2 separate regions of the Homo sapiens genome follow, and region 2 is linked to region 1. A link means that fine-mapping ties the variant in region 1 to the plasma level of a protein whose gene starts in the linked region. Region 1 holds a variant in brackets. A gene starts in the other region. All regions are shown on their reverse strands.

Region 1 (17,228 bases):
ATTTCTATATGCCAACAGTGAACAATCTGAAAGAGAAATCAAGAAAGTAATCCCATTTAAAATAGTTACAAATAAAATAAAATACCTAGGAATAAATTTAACCAAAGAAGTGAAAGATCTATGCAATAAAAACTATAAAATGTTAATGAAAGAAATTTAAGAGGATGCACAAGTCCTCAAGATATTTCATGTTTATGGATTGGGACAATTTATATTGCTACAATGTCCAAACTACCCAAAGCAATCTATAGATTTAATGCAATCCCTATCAAAAAAATCAGTGACATTCTTTGCAGAAATAGGAAAAAAAAATCCTAAAATTTATATGGACCCAGAAAACACCCAGAAGAGCTAAAGCCATTCTGAGCAAAATGAACAAAACTGGAGGAATCAAATTACCGGACTTCAAATCATACTATAGAGCTACAGTAAACAGCATAGTACTGGCATAAAACAGACACATAGACCAATGAAACAGAATAGAGAACCCCAAAATAAATCCATACATCTATAGTGAATTCATTTTCAACAAAGGAGCCAAGAACATACATTGAGGAAAGGACAGTCTCTTCAATAAATAGTGCTGGGAAAACTGAATATCCATATGCAGAAGAATGAAAATTGACCTCTGACCCCTCTCACCATATACAAAAATTGAGTCAAAATGGATTAAAGACTTAAATCAAATACCTGAAACTATGAAACTACTAAAATAAAACATTGGGGAAACACTCCAGGACATTGGACTGCGCAAAGATTTCTTGAGTAATACCCCACAAACAAAGGCAACCAAAACAAAAATGGGATCACATCAAGTTAAAAGCTTCGGTGCAGCAAAGGAAATAATCAACAAAGCGAATAAAAAATTCAAAGAATGGGAGAAAATATTTGCAAACTATTCACCTGACAAGGAATTACTAACCAGAATACTCAGCTATAAAAAAGAATGAGATCATTTCATTTGTAATAACATAGATGGAACTGGAGGACATTATGTTAAGCGAAAAAAGCCAGACACAGAAAGACAAACTTCACATGTTCTCACTCATTTATGGGAGCTAAAAATTTAAACAATTAACTAATGGAGATAGAGAGTAGAATGGTGGTTACCAGAGGCTATGAATGGTGAGTGGGGGGAGTGGGTATGGTTAACGGGTACAAAAATATAGTTAGATTGAGTGAATAAAACCTAGTATTTGACAGCACAACAGGATGATTACAGTCAACAAAAATTTATTGCACATTTAAAAATAACAGAGAGAATATAATGGGAATATTTGTAACAGAAAGAAATGATAAAGGCTTAAAGTGATAGATACCCCATTTACCCTGATGTGATTATTATGCATTATATGCCTGTACTAAAATATCTCATGTACCCCACAAATATACACACCTACTATGTACCCATAACAAATTTTAGATTTAATTTAAAAAATGAAGTGGGCTGGGATGATGTGACATATAGCATCAAGTATTTGCATTAGGCTCTGTCCATGCTTGAGTTTTTGTTTTCCACCATGAAAATAGCATGTTCCAGAGAGTGGGTGCTTCTTCAGTCTAGATCCCAGAATGGTAAGACACGAAGAATACCATCAAGCTGAGTCCTGTTGAGCGTAGCAGAGATGAAGCCAGTTCACATTCTCATATAATATAAGCAAAAACTAAATGTGTTATGCTACAGGGTGGAATGTTGATGTCCCCCCAAAAATTTAAATCTTCACCCCCAAGGTGATGGTATTCGGAAGTGTGGACTTTGAGAAGTGATTAGGTCAAGGGGTCAGGGCCTTCTTAAATAGGATTAGTGTGCATTTAAAAGAGACCCAAGAGAGACACCTCAACCCTTTTGCCACGTGAGGGTAGAGTAAGAAGGCTGTAGACATCAATATCTGCCAATGCCATGATCTTGAACTTCCCAGCCTCCAGAACTGTGAGAAATAAAGTTTCTGTTGTTGTAGGCCACACAGTCTATGGCATTCTGTTGCAGCAGCCTGCACAGACTAAGATGTCATAAACCACTGATAACTTAGAGTTGTTTGTCATTGCACCAAGATTTGACTAATAAATTAACCATGATTTAAGTTGAGGATCCTATGGATTTATTATCTTATTCTTTCTATTTCTTTTTTGGTGCCAAAAGAAATCAGTAGAAAATCTGGCTTTGCCTCACATAGTAATATAGAATTTTAATGATAAACTCATGAATTAATGGGCATTTCAAATTTTTTTTTCTAGAAGAATTGAAGCATTTTATTTTAAATATAATAGATTATATCAGGTATATAATAAGGTATAAGGTGTCTTGATTATACATGGTGGAAAGGTTACTTGACTATTTTTTATAGTTTTATCTAGACAGGCTGCCTTCGTTTGCCATTATATTTTCAACTTCAAAAACGTTTCATTAAGAGTGTTCCAGAAACTTTATGTACTTAGAATACCTCTAAAAACAATTTAAAAATATGTCTCATAAGGGTGCTTGGAAAAGCAGTTAATTCATGTCAAAGGCTATATTTTTGCTACTTTGGAAAATGTTTTCATTGTAAATCTCTTCAAAATGTATTTTTATGATAGAAAATACTCATTTAAAATCAACAATGGTAAACAATTGTTTAAATCATTTAGTAATATTTTAAATACTAAAAAATAAACCCAACAAATTATAGTTTTAAGAAGATAAGGACAGTAACTCAGTTGATAACTAATAACTGTAGAAATAGAGTAAATCTGAACACAGTAGACAGCATAGAATTTTAGAGAGTATTTCAGCCTGTTTCTCAGTATGTTTAATAGTTATTTCAAAAACTATTTATTATCTGTATATGAAATTTAAGTTGATAGCAATGTTATTTTTTCCTTCAATCACTAAACAAGGAAGGAACATGAAGTGGCCCTGGGTAATTTGAATAAGACATTTCTTTCCTGTAGGGACAAGTAAACTTTTAACAGTGTTGTTTTTCCAGTTGCTTTCATCAGATAAAAGCAGCTTCCCACTGTCCTCCACACTCTTGTAAAACCTCATGACCTAGTTTGGGGCCAAATTTAATCTGTCTAAATACTACTTAAGAACTGGGGAGAAATGATCAAGCAGAAACTTTTGCTTAATGTTCTCAATGCACTTGGGAGTTTGAAGCTCAAAATCCATCCCAGCTGCTTGAAGTTCAGCTCTCACAAATTTCCCATGGTCACTGCTCCTGAGGAATTCTTTTTGGTTCCCGTTTCCCTTCCTCCTTGTGTTTGTACAGGGTCTTGTGACAACAGTTCTGTCATACACATACTAAGGTGACCAACCTAGTTCTCATTTGCCAGAAACTTTCCTGGTCTTAAAACTGGATATCTGGTGTTCCCAGTAACCCCTTAAGGCAGGGGCAAACCAGGACAATTGTTACCCTAACCCAGTTCATCTCCAATTCCATATTCCCTGTTACTCAATACACCTTCAGTAGTAGAATCTGCTGTGGTATAAGAAAGAAAAGAAATGGAAGACTAAATGAGGACATGATAATGAAAGATAATAAAGAAGATTTTGAAAGTTAAGAGGAAGGAATGGAGGCAAAATTCCACCCTGCTAATGATCAGCATCTCCTCCTTCACAGCTGATTCTTCTCAATCCCTTCTTCCAGTTGTCATCTCCCCTCACACCCACATTTGTTCTGAGCAGTTTCTTTTCCCCATCCTCCCCATCCCCTTTCCAGAAGTGGTGGTTGAGAACACTAGCCCTGGAGCCAGAATATCTGGATTCAAATTCAACTTCTGCAAGTTGAGTGCTGTGTATAAGCTATTCAACCTCTTTGTCCTCATTAACTCCGTATGAAAGTAGTGCCTGTCTCATATGGTTGTGGTTAAATGAGTTAACACATGGAAAGCATACAGAGCTGAATAATTATCAATGTCAAGTATCATTATCACTGTTCCCCAACTCAGGGTCTACTACAAAAGCCCTTCAGGAGTCTTAGCACTCCATGCCAGGCTCTGACAGGCTGGCCTCAGCACCTCACCACAGCTTAGCACTGTTTCAATGAGCAAAGCTGATTTGGACTTCTAAATGACCTACAAATAAACTCTTGGAAAAGAACCTGTTCATAAGCATGTAGGTCAGATAAAATTGATACTGCTTTTGTCATTCACATACTTTGTTGCTGGAAATGATTATATCTCAGAGCAAAAATCTGATGTGAGCTATTTGTTCATACATTTTTAATTTATGTACTCAAAATGTTGAAATAACATTCAAAGTCGTAGATGCTTATCTGAACTGAACCCAAAATATTCTGAGGTTTAAATATCAGTTATAGTCATCAGAGAATTGTAACTGGAAAAGAGAAACCTTTGCCTGAAAAAAAGAATTGAGATTTATTTTTACTTTTTATCTTGAGAAAAGCTACCTCTAGATCTACAACTATATAACATGTATAGATAGATTCAGAAATATTTTGCCTCTATAATTAGGTTAAAATTATAAGTCCAGAATAATGAATAGTCACCCTAGAGGTATACACTCAATGATTTCAGGATATTTATGATCTACAAAACTAATGACATTTCTAAAGAGAACACAATTTTGAGGTAAGAGAGGAAATTCCATAGTACTTGGGATGGGACTTGGGACAATGGAGATGATGGGAGCTTCTTGAGGTGCAATAGAAGATAATTCTGGATAATTCTAGTGGTAGACTAGAGGAATAGGTAGCATAGAACCCAAAGCTAGCTGTACAATCTAGATAAATATATACTGGGACAAATAGGGATTAAAACTAGGAGAGGACCAGTCCACAGAGCTAAGTAAATTTTATGGAAAAAGGCAGGCAAGACTACAGAATGACTCCAGAGACTGGAACTTGATAAAATACTCTAAAGATGGATCTGGAGAGCTTGTGGGTAGAAAAACGTACAAGCTGCATTTTCAATAATATTTGGGCATTAAAAATCATGAACTGAGTCTTCCACGTACTAAAATACCACAGCATTTTTGGTTTTGTAGACAGCAAGTATACATTTTAGATTTTAGATGCAGACATGGGAGCTAAATGTAGTATGGCTGTAGTATAAGAAACATAAAAGAACAAATAAACCTAAAAACCTGACCGATGTATCAGGGAAGACAAGGCTGTTTGCCCTTAATTTAAGAAAGGAGTTTGAGGAGAAATAAGTAAAAGACTGCACAAGAAATATTGGAACCTGCATCTGTAGCTACATTAAGCCAAATGAGGGGAGGGGAGGGGTTGATGTAATGAATTCTTTACAGCTTAATTAATTTTAAAAAAATACTTCATCAAAACAATTTTACACGTAGGCAAATAACTGGTGAATGTCTTACTCCTACTGATTTGCTTTCAATGTGGACATACCTCTAATTTGTATTTCACATTAATCCCTAAAATCAAGCCTTTCTGCACCAGCATGCCTCCCCCACTGCCACCACTCCCATGCCCCACCTGATTTTACTCTCACTTTATTTCACAATGGTTGTGCGTATGCTGTTTCTTCTGTTTTGGACTCTCTTACTTCTTGATCTGATCCTTAACTGCTCTTCAAATTCCAACGTAAGTATCTTTTATCTGTCAAGCTTTCATTAGACTGCACAAAGGCTCACCTAAAATCCTTCTAGTGTTTTGCATATAGGTCCATCATCAGCAGACAACGATGATACTGGCACCTGGTGCACAAGCATCCCCTAGTCCTATCCCTGCAATGAAGCATGTGCTTGTCTGTCTCCTCCAGTAGACCAGAGGCCTCTCAAAAGCAATCATAATTTGATTGCTTTTCAGTACTTCTACCATTTAGTACAGGACCTGACAGAAGGGCAGGGCTGGGGATGGACAGAAACTTGAGCTCAACTCAAGTATAAGTTCTGTTTAATGGTGTGGGTGCCAAGAAGACTTGTGGAGAAGGATTCTGATGTGTAGCCTGTTCTGAGAGGGAAAGAGTTCCATGATCAATTAGCGATGTCGGCTATGGGAGTAGGAAACTGGGAATGGCAGTACCTATCCCACACATTTGCTCTTTTATCACAGGCATTCTGTAATTGTTTGTTGAGAGAACAAATACATTAGCAAACTTGAAGTAATGTTTCTTGCAATGTATATAACAATATTAAGTAAAATATTCTTTACTTCATTTCATAGCCTCTGATCTCAAGGATCACAAAACACATTGAGTATTTTTTATGTCACTGATCACTCCCTTTTAGTTTTGAATGTAGGTATTCATTTCTCTTAGAAGGGAATTTGAGACCCATAATCCATAAACAGATCATGCATATGCATAAAACAAATGTGATCTCCATGGTACCAAATATACAGGGTATCTGTTTTCTTCAGTAACTTGATTCAGTGGTTTTACATAGCCTTAAGATTACATGGTCAGTCAGAAGTAGGGCTTGGATGTCTGACTATTTTCCCCATAAACAGAAGGACAATATAATTTATAGTCCATACTTGGGACACCTTTGAGAGTGAATGGGGTGCTATTAATTATGTTGTAACAAGAGATGTAAACAAAAAACATTCTGGGACATGTGCGACGTATAGTCACCCTACTCTATAGAACTGTGACTCTAATTCTCCTATAGGCTACATTAAGTTGTTTGCTTAATATACACCCAAAACTGTAATTCCAATTGATTTCCTGTGGTTTCTTGGGTCACTGTATTGAGAAAGATATTAAGGCCGCTTCCAGATGTCACAGAAAAGGGTGCTGTGTTTCACTGGTGATGCCTGGTGGCTGACAAATGTGAATGAAAGGACAATGGTAGGAGTGCCCCTCACTTATGATTCCTGATCTAGAACTGAGAATCCACAGCTGTTTGCACTTCTACACTAGGTTCCTAGGAAGTAGTTATTTCCTCAATATTGACTCCTCCTCCATTTTGGTGCTTCAGTTCCCTTTGTGAGGATCTGGATTTCATATGACTTAGGCCATTCATAACCAAGATTTGCTGCTAACTTTCTAGACTTTATAAATTTGCTACTTACCATTTCCAGTTCTAGCTGTGCTACTCAGGATTCTTGATTTCTTGTCTATCCATACCGTCACAATTATAGACTTTTTTGTAAAATCACTTCCACCTAATTTTGGAATTACTGGGCTTCCAGTCCTCATGACCATACCCTTTACCTAGTGCATGGCTACGGGATCTTGTCTTTTATATAGCTTGGCTTCCATTTTTTAGCTTCCTAGCTATGACCAATTTCTCCCTGGCACCTGTAACTAGCAAAATCCTAAGTCCTTACATAACAGTTAATCTCAAAATCTAGTTTCCAAGCCAGTGCTCTCTCAAAGGTCTGTTGTTCTGTTTCCAAAATTAGCAATGAAACATGATGCAGGTATTTCTGATAAGAGGAGGATTTCATAATAAAATTACTCAGAAAAGTATCTCAATTATCAATTTTGTTTCAGCACAGAAGACAGAGCCTGAATGATCTTTGCCAAGTCCCTCAACTTAGTGTTTACAAAACTTCAAAATGTTTACTTAATATAATAATGACAAATCC[C/T]AGAGAGTTTTGTGAAGAATAACATAAAAGTCAGAAGGGCTTGCTTTGTTAATGCTAATTAACCCATTTGTGCCTGAAGCTGCAATTTTTTGAATTTTTGCAATCAGATCTTGGTGATGACCTTGAGCAGCAGGATATAAATAACTCCCAGATGCTTAGCGTTCCAATAATGGAACACTAGGCATAAATGGATCAGGACACCTGTCCTAATTCCATTATAGGATTGTACTGAGGAACGAATGCAGTGATAAATAACACAGTTGTTAGAAAATATAAACTATGGTCTTTTGTATAATGCAAATCTCAGATATGTTAGAAATGGCTTTTGTATTATTTATCTTAATCTAACGTAGTTTTAACTCCAAGACTCAATTCTACCATATTGCCAAGAATTCCTCTAGCCTTTTCAAAATAGCACCAGAGACTGGGAGCCTTAAATCTTCATGAAAATAGGGAAGAAGCTGATGTTCTGGCTAACATGGTCACTTCTGATTTTTTCACTATCCAGAAGATCCCCTTGACATCTGGCAGTTCTCAAGTGCTTGTGTACCAGTCTCAGGTGGGAATCTTTGGTCATGTTTGGAACGAACCCAGCTGTGGTCCCATCTCCTGGTAGCCATCTCTCACTTCTGCGGGCTCCTGACATCTAATATTCAACTCTGGAGTCATCCTGCCTTCTCCCACATTCATCTGAGGACCAGGGCTGTGGTTCCACTGCCCTAGGGCCTATGACCAATGAGCCTCTCTCCTCTGGGGGAAGACTCTCCACCCCTGGCTTCTACAAATTCTTCCTTGTCTTCTTTACTGCATGGGCAGGTGGGACAGGATGATTTCTTTCCATTTCCCCATCTCTTCTTCTCTCACTGGGCATCCTGATGGTGGCACAGGGGCAGCTAGGTGTCAGGGCTGGGACTTGAGCAACTCAATAGCTGACAGGCTCAGGGAGATAGGGAAATACATCACTGACAGCCTCGGCCTCTTCCTCTACAATCACCTCATTCTATTTCCAAACTCAATGCTGGACTCCCTCTCATGGGTTGTTGCACATTTGGTGATGAATTTCTTTAACTGGCTCTAGGCCAGGATGATAAAGCAAAGACTATAAAACACACAGAATTACTGCAAAGAAACAGAACCCACATTCTTTCCAGATATTGCATGTTGAAAACTACATATCCGTAGTCATCTGGAGATTTCGTTGTTTAGGAATACAATTCCTAGGTGGATTTTTCTTTTTCTTTTATTATTATAATTATTATTGTCAAAGGAAACTATTATAAACTGAATGCAATAGAAAAAAAAGGGTCTACTACCACTTTTAGTTTCTGTAGTATTGGTTAATGAATATGATACTCCTCTCTACAGCCCCTCTCCCCAACATCCATGTTTTATGGCAAAAGATTATAGGCTCATAAATGCAGCTGGGGCCAATAATTGATGAATGCAATATTTTATGACAGATTATGCATTTCCTTAGACAGGTAACTGTTACAGAAATATTGCTTCTTGATTATAACCAATCAGATAATAAAAATATGTTTCAGTTTTACTGAGATGTTTGATTTTCTTAGGTCTTGTTGTGCCACACCAGGAATAAAGCTTAATTAAGGATTCATTTACTAATTGTTTATCATAAAAGCTATATTCAAGGGAAAAAGTTACATTGAATCCATAGTTTTCTGGGAGGAGAACATGGGAACAGTCTGTTTGTGACCTGTATTTCTCTGCCAACTTCAGGACTTGGTAACCTATACAGGTTTCCTATGTGAGAGGTTAAAGTGTGGGTCCTTCTGTTTCCTAAAAAGGAAGCCTATAAAGCACCACATCATCTTTTAATTATTTTCCATACAATAAAGCCAGTTTAAGGCCATGAAATGGCCTATGAGCTCCTATGTGTTATGTAACATTTTCAGTGGTTACTGTAGCAACATTTTGTCCTTTATGGCATTTCATTTCCATATAAAGTAATCTGCATTGTTATGGGATGCTTTGTCCCATAGTGATGACCATAAACCATGCTCAAGGGTCTCAAACACTGACTCCCCACTCCCTTTTGTTCTACCTGAAAGGCGCCTACTAAGCTTCTTCTTTTAGTGACTATTAAAGGGGGAAGGATGCCCTGAAGAGGTTCGTCCGCTGTCCAACAGCGACCCCTAGAGGCACAATGCCTTGAAAGTGGCCAAAACCTCCAAAACTTCAATGCTTTTCTCCAATCAAGTGCTGCTGTAATTTGCTTACCTTGAGAACTATCACAGCATTAATCAAGACCTGCCTTTACTCTGAAAACATGGGCTGCTTTTGGTGCCCAAAAACGAAAGCCCAAAGTTTCGGGAGCTTTACTACCTACTATCTACTACACATACATTTGTTTTCTCTTTGTGAGATTTAAGGGAACCGTGGAAGAATTGCTTTTTATTCATCATCAAATAAGCATAATAACAAATTTGGGCATAGTCAAGATACAACGCCTTTGATGGCTTTTCGTTAGTTTTTTGTTTTTGTTTTGTTTTGTTTTTCGCTTGAAAAATAAGTTAAAATCTCAGGAAGAAAGAAAGAAAATCCTAGCGCTTTTTCTTTTCTGAGCTTGCAACTGTTTGTAGCTCAGGCACCCGGATGATTCATCCCATGAAAGCCTTGAGCGCTCCATTTGTTTTGTAGATTTCACTACTCCCTTTGTTCCGCTTCAAACCTTTCAGAGGGCTGAAATGCATTATTACCTTGTTAAAGCTCAACCAAAATCATTTCTACAGCCTGAAGCTGTTTTGACGTGGGTTGAGTATCTCACACAAAAGAATTGCTTTTGTTCCCAGAAGCTCTTATTGGCTGAGTGGCCTTTGCTCTGAGCCAATCAGAAGCTAGTTGTTAGGCTTGGCTGGCTATTTTTAGCCCAACACGCAAAAACACTTGGTCTTGGAGGGGGTCGGCTGGAGAGTGAAAGGCCCTGTAGTAAAAGCCAACAGCTAAATGCATTTTGGATGTCAAGGCGCGTTTGACATTTTCTCTTTAATTCCTCATACGCTGTTACATTAGCATGTGTTTTTCGTAAACAACAAACTTAGAGCTGCATTTCCCAGTCCTGAATTATCCATTTAGTAAAGAGACAGAAAGGCTAAGAAACAGCATTCCCCTTTTATCCAAAAGCAACGCACGGTAGTATCTAGTTATTTCATAACGCAAAAAAAAAAAAGTCAGTTACCGTATTGAGAATACTAAGGTGTTTTTGCCAAAGAATTTTTATGAATTTTCATCTTGAGTTAGAAATTTTCAATGCCTTGCTCATAATGAATTATAGAGTCCTAAAATAATCTTTTCCTCTTGCCCTTTAAATATGTATATAATTACACGAACGAGTATACACATGATGTGTAGCAATTAAAATAATAAATGCTGAGTGTGTTTCATGCATTGAGAAAAAGCATTCTTTTGAGCATGTTCTTCCATTTAAGCCATTACTCAGAGGGCACAAGAAGTATTTTTCCCAAATGCGCTTCAAGAGACAGGGCATTAAAACACACAATTTGTTAATTATCCGATATTATCAGGAAATGAAAGTTGCCAAACGGGAAAAGCCAGGCTCTTAAACTTTGATTTTCCCTCAGCAGTCTATTCAACTGGGCTTATATAAGGAGGAGACAAGCTGAACCCAAATTTTACAACACAAAGCAATTTTTATTGGCAGCAAGGGAGACCCCTTCCTGAAAAAGAAAGAAAAAACCCAAATCTATGTCTAATTCTTAAAATATGTTTCAGGTTGTAGATTTTAGCAATATTTATTATTCAAGCTTGGGAATATGACCTCATTTGCCATGGTTGTTTGCTTATTTTAAGAAAAATGCCTTTCTACTTCTTGTTGCAAGCCATCAGGCAACCATTTAAACATGCAAGCAAAAAGTCTGGATCATGGGCATATTTAAAAATCTGGAAGACTTCAATAAGTTGTAAAGATTTACGATTCCATCGTGGGCTTGCAGAAGGGGTTTGCTGTGGCCTTCTGTGAGCAAGGGCGGCCTAGTATATGGTGGGCATAGGCCAAAGAACTTACCAAAAATTCTACCAGAGTGAAGGGAGCACAAATAGTTTTGGGGGAAAACTTTCCTTGTCTTAAGCAATACCGTATACAGTGTTTAGAAGGAATGTCACCTAGGTTTCAGAAGGTGAATTTGAAAGGCTGAAATAAAGTACTTTAGAAAGAGGTATCTTTTTCTTTCCAACATCAATTTGATGCACACAGGGACAGATTTTGAGAAGCTCTGTAATTGCTCCCAGGAGTTGAGTTAGGTTGAGGTAGTCAACCAGCTGCTAACAATTTAGTTTAATATGCAGTCTTAGTAAATTAAAGGAATCTGATAAATTGAGACCCAGCATGATTCTTATTTGTTTGCTATGGCATAACATGTTGAACGCCAGCAGAAATTAACCCATTGAAATTTTTCTACTCAAGGCCCCCATTTTATTTTCTCACTTTCCTGTGTCAGATGTTTTTGCTCCAGACTTGGTCATCTGAGCAATTCCTTAGTTTTATGCTTATCTACTTAAAAAATATATATATAACAATAATACAAATTCTAGAATCATGCTTATTTTCAGTTTTCTCTCTGTGTTTGTATTTAAACTCCTTGAAGGTAAAAATAAATAAATAAATGAGTCTGTTACTCCTCTTGTGTGTTAACCTTTCTACTTCACATGTAGATCATCTTAAACATGCTTGATGTAGATTTTGTTTTCTGTGGGAGCTGAGACACTTGTGGGAGGAGAAATGTGCAATTTTGTACTTGGCTACATCCCCAGAGGAGTGGTGACCAGAAAAGGGAAAGACAGCTTGCCAGATACCTAAAGGATAAATGAGATATTGAGCTACTGGAAACACCAAAATTTACCATTGATTCTTTCTACACACTAAACTGTTACTTGTGATAGTAGTTGTAAAAAACTGCATGTTTATTAACCGAAAGGTGATTGTTCTAACATTCACTGGGAAAGAGTGAAATGGTTGGAATAACACTTTAGCACTCATACCTAAAGATTTGCAAAGCCAAAATGCCAGGCAAAATTAAAACAGGCTAAATTCATATGTACAAAAGAGCTGTAATTCTTTTATGATGAAATAGATATTTTCTTAGAAGCAACAGTTTCCTGTGTTCTGTAAAGTAAGCCAAGTCAGTAATGGGTAACTCTGGCATCTCCTGCTCTCCTCTCACCTCATGGATGCCAGGCTTTCGAGTTGTATTTCAATTCTCCCTTACATTGTGGCCTCTTTGCCTCACTCCCAAATTCCTCATACCTCTTCCAAACTTGCAGTTAGGAGTGAATATAGGATCCTCCTCCTCCTCCTCTTTCTCTCTCTGTCTTTAGATTAAACTGAAAACATGGCAGCTTTTTCCAAAATTATTCATTCTTTGTCAGGTGTGTGTGTATGTGTCTTATTGTGCCATTGAAAATAAGAATGTGGAGGGTGCCTTACTATGCCATAGAACAATTTATTGTGTTTCTGGGTTGCCATCTTTTCAATCTGATTAATTTATGGTCCCATAGAGAATCTCTGGTGTGAATTATGTTAGCTTTGTTGAGTCCACTGTGCAGAAAGTCAGTTTGTATCAATATTCTTCTAGGCTTAACAGTTTCTCCTTAAAAGGCTTAATAATTGCCTGTCATTTGTCTCTTGGCCCATTTTTATCTTGGAAATGATTGGCTGTTAGGCAGACCATTTGTGTAATATTACTATAAAAGCCTTAAAACATGGGAAGAAAATTAGAATCATATGTGTATATACTAGGTTAGTAATGAATAAAGTGCTTTTCTACAAAATTTTGAGGACCTTTTAGGAAATCAAAATCTTTAATGACATGAGGATATCCCAAGTCAGAATAAGGGGAAGTTTGAGGGAAAATATTTAAATTAGAGGGTAACTTTGTGCAAGGACAAGTGATATTTGTAATTTTTAGTGTACAGGCTACCATGAAGCTTACAAATGAAAACAACAGCAACAATTTAAAACCAAACCATCTAAGTCAAATTTTATCTAAAATGAGGTAAATGCTATGACAAAAATGAAAATTTTATTGCAATTCAAGATCAAGTAGATGTCATTATGGTTTTTCAAATTATGAAATAAATAAGGAAGGAAAATGTGGCTAAACCTACAAAGAACTATGAAGATTAAAAATGGAACGTGGAATTTGTACTGTCTTAATTCCTCTGGCTTTTATAAACAAATAAAAGTAATATTGTATACTGCTAATAGCCACTCTAAAATATATTCCCCAAATGAGAAAATAATTGTATTTACATTATATTATAAGAATAAACTTAATTATGTTTTCAAAAGGAAATACTGGAAAGTGTAATAATAGACCTCAGAATAAAATAACACAATCCAAATATCCCTTATATTTTTAATAAAACAGCAGAACCTATTATTATAGATTTTCCACTAAGGAAAAATATGGAAAGAAGCTGAGGGAAAACATAGGTAGGGCAAAAAAATGCAAACCATTTTGAAACTTGATGTAGAAGCATATTATTTTAGCAAAGTAAGGGAATCTATAGATCCGAGTGAACTATTCCTTTTCATTGGCATCCAAGATCATTCATCATGTGAAAATCTGTAGTATAGTTAGATGTAGAACAATCCAGAAGGAGGTGGGGCTGGGTGTTGGTCACATAACTATAAATTTTTCAAACCCCAAAGATTACAGAGCTCTTAAGCAATATGTCCGGAATAAGTGAGCAGAAAGCAAAGGCATGAAGTGGCACTGTGAATAGTCCTCATTACAGCTGCATGCCTAAGGGGTCTTATTTACAGCTGCCCTCTCCTTCCAGTGGCAACTCTTTTCTCTTTCATGCATCTTGAAAGCCTCTGTAATTTCTCAGTGAGAATGATTTGTTGCTTACAACTGACAGAATGACAAACGAATGCTTTTAAACATCCATTTTAAATACAGGACTATTAGAAAAAAATGCTGCGAAAATCCCTTACCCTTTTTTTGGTGGGGGGAGGGTAAGCGGCTATTGGAACACCTCTGGCCTTCTGTGGAGTCTTTAAAAGTCGACTGTAGTTTTTAAAATGACCACTGTAGTTTGCCTTGGTGCATAATGACTTGGTTTGTTTCAGAAAAGTCCTTTGTTAATCAGCTGGTTTTCCAATTTGGCTGTAAGTACTGATGTCCATGTCAGGGTCTAGTTTTGTACTATCCTTTACTTACTGCAATGTCAATGTTATACTTCCTTTGGTTAAAATAATAAAATAGCTGATTGGGTATTTTGTAGGACCCATCACCCTGTGGTTGGTGCCTGTGGTGCCACAGTGTGTCCGTCAAATGAGCGTATGTGCTGTTCAGCAAATTACCTTTGAAAAGAGGCATGGGCACAGGCTTCTTGTAAATTTCACAGCTGTGAAGCCAGATGTTGGCTGACATGCACTGCTGGGGTTACCGTGGGAAACGGAATCATGATGCTTTCTGGAGGACCCTATATTACACTTCATGTCAGTAACAAACCACAGCCCAAATTGATGATGGATGCAGTGGCTTGAAAGCTGTTGAGCATTACTTTGTCACCATTGAAAGGCATTACTCTTCACACAATGCACAACCCCATTAACCTCTGGGACTAAATCTCCATAGAAATCATCCCCTACTTTCTGCAAACTTTGCTAGAAATGTAGTCATTAATATCAAAAGGCAAGGAGACAACATGGGAAACTGGATATAGAAACATTTTCTGACAGAAGATATACAATGTGTAGGCATTCCCTATGCTAAAGGCTGAGAAATGCAAGATATTCATGTTGATCTCCAACCTTTCACCCTGTGTTAGAATTTGTAGGACAGATATAGGAATAAGGGATCTGGAAGAGAAATCTAATGCCACTAATCCAAACAATTTTAGAACTCCCCTCTTAGCATTTTATCTTTCTTCACTTAATATTATTTCGCAGAAGTATCAGGAGTCAGACGGTATGTTCACAAATTGGATTTCAGTTCGAGTGATGCCATCATCTTCTAGTACATTCATACTAATTGCATAAGGCTAATGCAATCCATCCTCAAGAGGATGGTGTCTTACTTTGCTATGGCTGCCATAATCAAGTACCATAGATGAGATGACTCAAACAACAGAAATTTATCTTCTCGCAATTCTGGAAGCTAGAAGTCCAATATCAAGGTGTCAGCAGGTTTGGTTTCTTTGGGACTTCTCTCTTCAGCTTGCAGATGGTTGCTTTCTTCTGTGTCTTCACGTGGTCTCTCCTCTGTGTGCTCATATTCTGGTGTCCCCTAGTATGTTCTAATCTCCTCTTCCATAAGGACACCAATCAGATTGGATTAGGGCCTAGTGCTATGCTCTGAATGTTTGTATGTCATCAAAATTTTTTTGTTGTTCTTGAAAACGAATCCCCAGGATGAGAGTATTTGTAGCTGGGGCCTTTGGGAGGTGAGATCAAATCTCCAGTGAATGGGATTACTGCCCTTACAATAGAAGCCCTAAAGACATCCCTCATCCTTCTGCCAGGTGAGGACACAGTAAAAAAACTAACTGTTCATGAAGCAGGAAACAGCCTTCATCAGACACCAAATCTGCCAGTGCCTTGATTTTGGGCTTCCCAGACTCCAGGACTATAAGAAATACATTTCTGATGTTCATAACCCACCCAGTTTATGGTGTTTTGTTGTAGCAGCCCAATAAGACTAAGACATCATCCTCTTGAGGAGAATCCTAGTATTATCTGGGTTGTCCCTCCTGCTCACTCCCTGTCTTCCTGCATGGATAGACCTCCAAAGGCCCTCTAACTTCACATGCACAACTGTGCCTCTTTCCTCACTCACTTTATTCTGACTTGCAGACCTTCCTGATGGAAAAAACCTACTGGTCACTGCTAACAGCAGCTGTTACTTTTACTGTTCTGTTACCTGCAGATGTGATAGATGGTAGGCTTTGCCTGTTCTTTGATAAGAGGTGTTAACTGTTCCTTACTCTCCACCAATGGCAGTTCCAGCCTCCCTGAACCCTTCCTGAATTCTGAATAAGCTCTGCCATTTTGCACCTCTAGCCTGATTCAGCATATCCTCTCATTTCTGCCCACCCGCCTTCCCTTTGCCCAGCCAATTTCTACCAATCCTGCAATCCTCCTCTTAGAAATAACTTCTTTGAGAAGTTTTGCCTGAACCCACAAGACTCTCTTAGCCCTTTTTAAACAAGTCTCCCTGTACTAAGCCAACACTTAAGTCTTATATTGTAGTTCAGTGGTTTTCAAACTTAATTGTGAAAGCTGGACATGGTGGCTCACTCCTGTAATCCCAGCACTTTGGGAGGCTGAGGCGGGCAAGTCATCTGAGCCCAGGAGTTCAAGACCAGCCTGAGAGACATGGCAAAACCCCATCTCTACAAAAAATACAAAAATTAGCTGGGTACAGTGGCACACACCTGTAATTCCAGCTACTTACGAGGCTGAGACAGGAGGATCGCTTGAGCCTGGGAGGCAGAGGTTGTAGTGAGTGGAGATCACACCATTTCACTACAGCCTGGGTGACAGAGCAAGACCGTGTCTCAAAACAAACACAAACAAAAACAATCAAACTTGAGTATGCATCAAAAGCAACAAGAGGGCTTGTTAAAAACAAAGGCTGCTGAGTCCCAACCCAAAGTTTCTGGCACAAAAGTTTTGGGGTGAGCTCAGTAACTTTCATTTTTTACAAGTTCCTCATAATGCAGGGTCAGGGTGATACAGATTTCAGTACT
Region 2 (8,000 bases), not on the chromosome of region 1:
GCTGGCAGGTCTTGGAAGGATGGCCTTCCGAAGTCAAGACATTGCGTGTCACCCCCACCCCAAGAGCCAGACCCCATTAGTGACTAGGCACGCAAAGGGCAGGGCCCAGGAGGAGCTGTTGGGCTATTGTGTGCTTTGGGTCACCCCATCAAGACAAGATTCCCACTGCCCTGGTGGCTCTGCCCAAAGGGGAAAGCCCCTGCCCTGCCTCCTGGACCCTGCTCTGGGCACAGGTGTTTCACAAGTAACATCATGGACCCCGACAGGAAACTGAACACGAGTGGAGCCCAGTGGTCTCTTGGGAAGCAGGGGCCCAGGCCAGCCCTCACTGTCCTCTCCCAAGGGAGCCCTTAGAGGGTCAGGGACCCTGGGCAATGATCTCCCAGCCTTTCAGGAGCGGCAGCGCTGGAAGGACCCAGGCTATGGGATACCCAGACAGCGTCGGCTGCATCCAGCCCCCAGCGTGGCCCCAGGCACTGGTCAGTGTGCCTCTGGCCTAGACCACAAAGAACCAGGTCACAAAGTGGGCCTTGCCCTCCTGTTGCCCCTGACCACTAGCCCACCTGCCTCTGGCCCCCATCAGCCATTAGTCAAGTTGCCAATGGCCCTACTGGGAAGGGGGCTCGCACCGGAGAAGGTCACAGACATGGGCCTGTGGGCAATGGGGACAGGCCTTTATCATAAGGAAATCCATGGCCTTAGGAGGTAGCCTGAGCCAGTACCTATCTTGTTTCCCACAGAAGGAATAAATATTTACATCCACGGTCAGAAACCACAAGAGCTCCTGAAAATCAGCCAGCTCAGCAGAGGCCATGGGGCAGGAGGGGCCAGCCAATCGGTGACCGTTCCCTTGTGATATTTAACAGAAGCTAGGGTGAGAACCCTGGCCTGGCTGGAACACCCAGACCAGCTTATATCAACTTGGCAGGAAGTAACAGAGTTAATTAACAGGGTTGACAGCAGCTTCTCTGACCTTCTCCTTCCAGATCCACCAAAAATCCCAGACCACTGACTCAGTGGTGAGATACCCCTTGAAAGTCCTGAGAAACTCCCCCCGGGAGAGAAGACACCAGGACAAGTACCTTTTAAGGGAGCACCAGGGCTCAAGTAAGAAGACACGGCCTGTGGCTCCAAAGCCTGAAGACAACTCTGCAAGACAAAAAGAGATGGATGGGGCCGGGCATAGTGGCTCTGGCCTGTAATCCTAACACTTGGGGAGACCGAGGTGGGAGGATCACTTGAGTCCAGGAGTTTGAGACCAGCTGGGGCAACATAACAAGACCCCATGTCTTAAAAAAAAAAAAAAAAAAAAAAAGAGAGAGAGAGAAAGAAAAAAGAACAAAAAGAGATGGATGAAGAGGGAGACAGGAGGCAGGAGGTGGGTGAGGCCAACCAAGAAGGAGAGGGGGAAATCAGAGACAGGGAGAGGAAGGGAGAGGCAGAGAAGAGCAACCTACACAGTTTGGGACAAACTAGTATCTGTCTGTTCAGCTTCACCGAATGAGCAGGTCGTACTGAGACACCAACTCCCTCTTCAGTGAGCACACTTCATCCCCCAAAGCCCCAAGTACAGACTCCCCTGCCCAGCGCAAACCCCAAAGCTGATGTAGTCAGCTATTTGGCACTCCCCTCGCCCCAGGTAGCTCAGAATACCCCACCCAGAGGCTCCCAGAATACCCCCGCTCCTGCAAATGAGCCCACCTGCTGGAAATGGGAGGGTCCCCAGCAGCCCAGGAGAAAGCCACAGGCAAGGATTCCGGCCACACAGAGGGGAGGGCATCTTGCCCGGGGGTGACGCTGGTGCATCCTCAGGAGAGCCAGCCCGAGGAGTGGAGCGGAGTGAGAGGGGGCCTTGGTGACTGGGAATCTGGTCAGTATGGAATGGGACAGGCCTGCTCACTACTGGGCGGGACGATTAGGCAGTGTTTACTCTTGGAAGCTTCCTGCCAGGGCAGGGGCCGTGGCTAGGGTGGGCGGCCTGCAGCTCCTCCTGCTGCAAGCTGGGCCTTGCTCTAAGATGGTTGCAGTTCAGGGTAACCTGCAGCCCAGTCCTGCACACCAGACAGCTCTCCGGATGTGCACGCCCACCCCCTTAGAGGAGGCCTAAGCCATCTAATCTGGAGAAGGGACACTGGACCAGAAACCCACAGACGGGGGTTCACAAGGAATGCCAGGACCTCGGCTGACTCCCTCTCCGGGGTCCCCGCTCCCATCTGACAGATGAGAGGCTGTGCCAAAGACATCGTGGTTCTGGCTCAACTCTCCACCTACTCTGTGCCTGCGCCTGATGAGGAGAGTCGCAGAAGCAGGCTGCACGGCACCAGATCTCAGCATCATCACAAACGGCCTGGCAATCCCCTTCATCTCCTGGAAGACTCACTTCACATGCTCCAAACCACTCTTTTACACCCACAGAGCCGCACAAGCTGATGACCAGCAGGGGGATTCACCTTGTCTTTCCACCCCTCAAAGTGCAGCCTCTCTCCTCCTCTGCGATCAGGGAGGACACACCTACACTTCCTGCCAGGCCCTGGCTCTGGATCCCTTCCCAGCTCTCTCCTCCTGCATCGTTAGTTTCTGCCCCTCTGCTAGAGCCATTCATTCATTCCTTCAGCCAACAAATGTTTCACTGAGCCCCTGAAACAGGCCAGGCTCTGTGCTAGACACCAGGAAAGCAGCCCCAAGCCAGGCAGACAGCAGCCTCGGCCTCTCACAGCTTAAATTCTAGGGAAGAGAGCCAGACAGCAAAGTTGCTAGACAGACACATGTTGTATATGTAGTATGTTCAAAGGTGGTAAGTGTTATGGAGAAAAATACAGCAGAATAAAGGAATGGGGGACTGGAGGGAAGGGTGTGCTTTCATGCAGGAAGGTAAGGAGGCTGTTGGAGAAGGGGGCATGCTTAGATATCGAGATCCTGGTACCTGGCTCACTCCATCAGCATGAATGACTCTCCTGTCTCTTTTTGGTTTTTGTTTGTTTTTTGAGACAGAGTCTTGCTGTGTCACCCAGGCTGGAGTGCAGTGGCACGATCTCGGCTCACTGCAACCTCCGCCACCCAGGTTCAAGTGATTCTCCTGCCTCAGCCTCCCTTGTGGCTGGGATTACAGGCACCCGCCATCACGCCTGGCTAGTTTTTGTATTTTTAGTAGAGGTGGGGTTTCGCCATGTTGGCCAAGCTGGTCTCAAACTCCTGACCTCAGGTGAGCTGACTGCCTCGGCCTCCCAAAGTGCTGGGATTACAGGCATGAGCCACCAAGCCCAGACACTCTGGTGTCTCTTGATTACAATCAACAACCTTCCCTTGACCCACACTGTCCTCCTGCCATAGCCCTGTTTCTGGCTGTCTTTAAGAACTTAGAAACATTATTTTCAGTGGCTATCTCCACTTCCTTGCCTTCAATTCCCACATACCATTGAAATTGATCTTTAAAAGGTCACCAATAACTTTGTGAACCCTGAAAGAGCCAATCCTTCTTGATGGATCCCAAGTTACTAACTGGGCCTAAATTCAAAGTAGGACCTAGCAGCCATTTGCTGACTAGGGTCACACACACATTCTGCGTTCCTGGAAAGCCCCCACTCTCACTTAACTCTGGGATGGTTTCACAGCTATCTGTTCCTGTTTATGCCGCCAGAATCAACCCATCGACTGTGACCTGCATCGACCAATCTGAACTCAGCAAGTATTAACCAATCAGAACTAAGCAAGTGTGCCTTCCTCATTTGCATAAGTGGACCAAAGTGGGAACCTGGGCAGGAAGTTCTCTACAAAAGACGACCTCTTTCTTTGTTCTCTTTGTTCCCTGGAATGCACCTTTGTACAGAAGGCTGCATTGCCCTGGTTTACAAACTGCTGGAACAAAGTTTTTTTCCTTTTTTAAAAAGAAAACCTGGGCCAGGTGTGGTGGCTCACGCCTTTAATCCCAGCACTTTGGGAGGCCGAGGCAGGTGGATCACGAGGCACGCGGATCATGAGGTCAGGAGTTCGAGATCAGCCTGGCCAGCATAGTGAAACCCCGTCTCTTTTCAAAAATACAAAAATTAGGCTAGGTGCGGTGGCTCACGCCTGTAATCCCAACACTTTGGGAGGCTGAGGCGAGAGGATCACCTGATGTCTGGAGATCCATACCAGCCTGGCCAACATGGAGAAACCCCATCTCTACTAAAAGTACAAAATTAGCCGGGCGTGGTGGCACATGCCTGTAATCCCAGCTACTCGGGAGGCTGAGGCAGAAGAATCACTTGAACCCGGGAGGTGGAGGTTGCGGTGAGCCGAGATTGCGCCATTGCACTCCAGCCTGGGCGACAAGAGCATAACTTCGTCTCAAAAAAAAAAAAAAAATTAGCTGGGCATGGTGGCGTGCACCTGTAGTTCCAGCTACCCAGGAGGCTGAGGCAGGAGAATCGCTTGAACCCGGGAGGTGGAGATTGTGGTGAGCCGATATCACGCCACTGCACTCCAGCCTGGGCAGCAGAGCAAGACTCCGTCTCAAAACAAACAAAAAAAAAGAAAACCCTTTTCGGTGGACTTGCTGACAATCTCAGTGCCATATCTGGTTCCCATCTCTCTGTCCTCGTCCTTCTCAGCCTCTCAGCAGCATCTGATGTGGTTTATTCTCCCCCTGGATTCTCTGATGCCACTCACATCCGCTTCTCCTCCCACTGCACTGACTGCTCCCCCTCAGCCTCCTCTGCTGCTTCGCCCCTGGAGAGCCCCCAGCACCTGCTATCTGGTCTTAACCCTTCACTCCCTATATTGGTACTCTCTCTTTGGATGAACTAACCCAGGTTCATGTTTCAACACTAATTATGTGCTGACGATTTCCAAATTACATCTCCAGCACTGACCCTTCCCTAAGCTTAGGAATCTTATATCCTGCTGCTGATTAGACGTCTCTCCTTGGTGACTGACGGCCCGTTCAAACTCAGCAAGTGTGAAAAGGAGCTCATGGCTCCACCCCCATACTTCACCCTGCTCCCCGCAGACATTTATTGAGATGATAAATGGCCACACCCAATTGCTCAGACCAAAATCCTAGGAGCCTCACTTCCCTGTTACTCCATCAACCTCTGCCTGTTACACACGCACATCAAATCTACCCACTCCCGGCCGGGCACGGTGGCTCACACCTGTAATCCCAGCGCTTTGGGAGGCCGAGGCGGATGGATCACTGGAGGTCAGGAGTTCAAGACAGCCTGGCCAACGTGGCGAAACCCCAGGTCTACTAAAAATACAAAAATTGGCAGAGAGTGGTGGCGTGCACCTATAGTCCCAGCTACTCAGGAGGCTGAGGCAGGAGAATCGCTTGAACCCAGGCGGCAGAAGTAAGGGAGGAGACCACCCCTCATATTGTCTTATGCCCAATTTCTGCTTCCAAATAAAGAAGTAAAAACTAAAAGGCAGAAATAAAATCCACAGGCAGACAGCCCGGCGCCGCGCCCTGGGCCTGGTTAAAGATCAATCCTTGACCTAACCGGTTATGTTATCTATAGATTTCAGACATTGTATGGAAAAGCATTGTGAAAATCCCTGTCCTGTTCTGTTGCGTTCTGATTACCGGTGCATGCAGCCCCCAGTCACGTACCCCCTGCTTGCTCAATCGATCACGACCCTCTCACACAGACCCCCTTAGGGTTGTAAGCCCTTAAAAGGGACAGGAATTGCTCACTCAGAGAGCTCGGTTTTTGGAGACGTGAGTCTGCCGATGCTCCCCACTAAATAAAGCCCTTTCCTTCTACAATTCGGTGTCTGAGGGGTTCTTGTCTGCGGCTCGTCCTGCTACAGAGTGAACTGGCAGGAACTCCTCCCGGTGCCTGGGCCTCAGTTTCCCCACTGTACGTGGAAGATGAGCCGCTGTGAGGCTGAGCAAGGAGCAGCCCAAGGCGGGAAAGGCTCGAGAGTCCAGGACGCAGGCGAGCGACCTAGCCCGGCTCTCACTAGCCCCACCGCCCAGTGCCCCCAGCTCAGCTGCCCTACCAGGTGCTACACACACAGCGGCCCCCCAGTTCCCTTCCGGCGTTCGCATCTCTCATCCCCATCCCGGATCTTGGGGAGGTCCTCGGCTTGCCCCAGTCAAACTCGAGGTCGATGACCCCGGATGCCGCTGGCTAAGGCGGCGGCCCAAGTCCCGTGCGGGTGAACCGCCCAGGCTGCGCGGAACCAGAGGCAGGGATCCGGTTTCCAGCCGGTTGTGGAGAGACGAGCGCTTCCGGGGACTGGAGCGTGCGTGCTGAGGTATGCGCAACGCGTGCGGGGTCTCTTCCGGAGTCTTTTCCTGGACGGGGTCCCTGCGGTGGGTGTGTTTCGGCCTGGCCTGGGCAGGCGCTTGTGCTGCCAGGGCGCCGGGCCCGGGGAGGCCGGGGTCTCGGGTGGCCGCCGGCCCAGGCGCTGGACGGCAGCAGGATGGGGAAGGCGAAGGTCCCCGCCTCCAAGCGCGCCCCGAGCAGCCCCGTGGCTAAGCCGGGTCCTGTCAAGACGCTCACTCGGAAGAAAAACAAGAAGAAAAAAAGGTTTTGGAAAAGCAAGGCGCGGGAAGTAAGCAAGAAGCCAGCAAGCGGCCCCGGTGCTGTGGTGCGACCTCCAAAGGCACCAGAAGACTTTTCTCAAAACTGGAAGGCGCTGCAAGAGGTGAGGCTTGAGGGGGCCCGGGCGGAGCGCTGCGCAGCTCATTCCCGCAGAACGCGACGGAGGGAAAGACTTGGGTAGCCCCAAAAGACCTGTAAAGGCAGATTTGAATCGAAATCTTGTAAACAGCTTTTCACAAGAAAGGTGGCCTGTTGAGGGAGGTCTCGAACTTGTTTGCTTGAAAGAAATTGATGAAAGAATTATTTCAAGTACAAAAAAGCAAAGATAAACCCTTGTACCTTTTGCATAATGAACTAACTAGAATGGATTTTACAAAGAGAAATTTAGCTTAAAATCCCGAAACCAGGCCGGGCGCGGGGCCTCACGCCTGTGATCCCAGCACTTTGGGAGGCCGAGGCGGGCAGATCCCCTGAGGTCAAGAGTTCAAGACCAGCCCGGCCAACATGGTGAAACCCCGTGTCTACTAAAAAAGTACAAAAAATATTAGCCGGGCGTGATGGCGCGCGCCGGTAGTCGCAGCTACTCGGGGAGCCTGAGGCAGAAGAATCGCTTGAACCCGGGAGGCAGAGGCAGTAGTAAGCCGAAATCGCGCCACTGCACTCCAGCCTGGGCGACAGAGCGAGACTCCATCTCAAACAACAACAACGAAAGAACACACTGGTCTGTGTAGCAAGACAGGGAGAAAGAAGATTCCTGTGTAGAAGTGAAAAGCAGATAGCAGACATGTGATGGGGTTCTAGCGACACTTACGGTCTTGAAGTAAATACTAATTGAGCTCCTAAAAATGTGCACTCTGCCATGTGCTCTATGCCATGCGTGTTGCAATCCCCACAATAAGACTGTGAGGTGGACACTTCCATCATCGCTATTGTACAGATGAGGAAATAGGCTGGAAAAGTTTAAATAGATCATCTAAGATTGCGGCTGGGAACCAGGTGGCTGACTCTGGAGTCCATGCTTTTAAGGCTGTGTTGTACCTGCTGTCTCCCTAGTGACCTGCACTTCTGTAGAGGTTGCCTGCTCTCTCCTAGACACTCTTCCACGTGCGTCACTCATACATTCTTACCACATCCCTTGGAGCTCCCTTGGAGCTACCTCCTGTTAGGATCATAGCTCACTGCTGCCTGGGCTCCAGTGATTCTCCTGCCTCAGCCTCCCGAGTAGCCCACACGTGTAATCCCAGCACTTTGGGAGGCCCAGGCAGGAGGATCACTTGAGCTCAGGAGTTCAAGTCCAGCCTGGGCAACATGGTGAGATTCCATCTCTAAATAAAAGTAAAAAGTAGTTTTTTTAAAAAAGAAATGTGATCCCCAGTGGTGGAGATGGGGCCCATAGGAGGTATTGGGTCATGGGGGTAGATCCCTCATGAATGACTTGGTGCCCTCCCCTCAGTAACGAGTAAGTTCTCACTC

Alleles and levels. Alleles are on the strand shown, and positions count from the first base shown. The strength of an association depends on the size of the effect and on how common the allele is.
For the plasma level of the protein whose gene starts at base 1,883 in region 2, T is the low allele of the variant in region 1 and C is the other (weak association).

What was found. PIP is the chance, under the fine-mapping model, that this variant and not a neighbour inherited with it causes the effect. Protein levels are from antibody-based Olink assays in UK Biobank. Linkage for the fine-mapping came from a reference panel and not from the study's own genotypes, which makes the PIPs less certain.
Region 2: it holds the start of ADAMTS13, and the variant in region 1 is fine-mapped to the plasma level of the ADAMTS13 protein (UK Biobank, PIP above 0.99).

What each region holds. Positions count from the first base shown.
Region 1 is chr12:91,374,630-91,391,857 of GRCh38, reverse strand. The region is part of intron 4 of LOC105369896 (a long non-coding RNA gene); the gene reads left to right. Among named protein-coding and RNA genes, the nearest start is that of LINC02823, 56 kb to the right of the region's middle. RefSeq lists a silencer at 3,012-3,306 and enhancers at 9,301-10,132, 10,133-10,966. The variant C/T (reference allele first, on the strand shown) is at 7,494.
Region 2 is chr9:133,416,250-133,424,249 of GRCh38, reverse strand. It overlaps ADAMTS13 (ADAM metallopeptidase with thrombospondin type 1 motif 13), which reads right to left and starts at 1,883. Exons shown (of 29, transcript NM_139027.6): 1 at 1,702-1,883; 2 at 1,083-1,149. The coding sequence starts at 1,806. It overlaps REXO4 (REX4 homolog, 3'-5' exonuclease), which reads left to right and starts at 6,240. Exons shown (of 8, transcript NM_020385.4): 1 at 6,240-6,630. The coding sequence starts at 6,406. RefSeq lists enhancers at 2,129-2,188, 2,309-2,358, 2,589-2,728, 5,926-6,145 and a silencer at 6,256-6,495.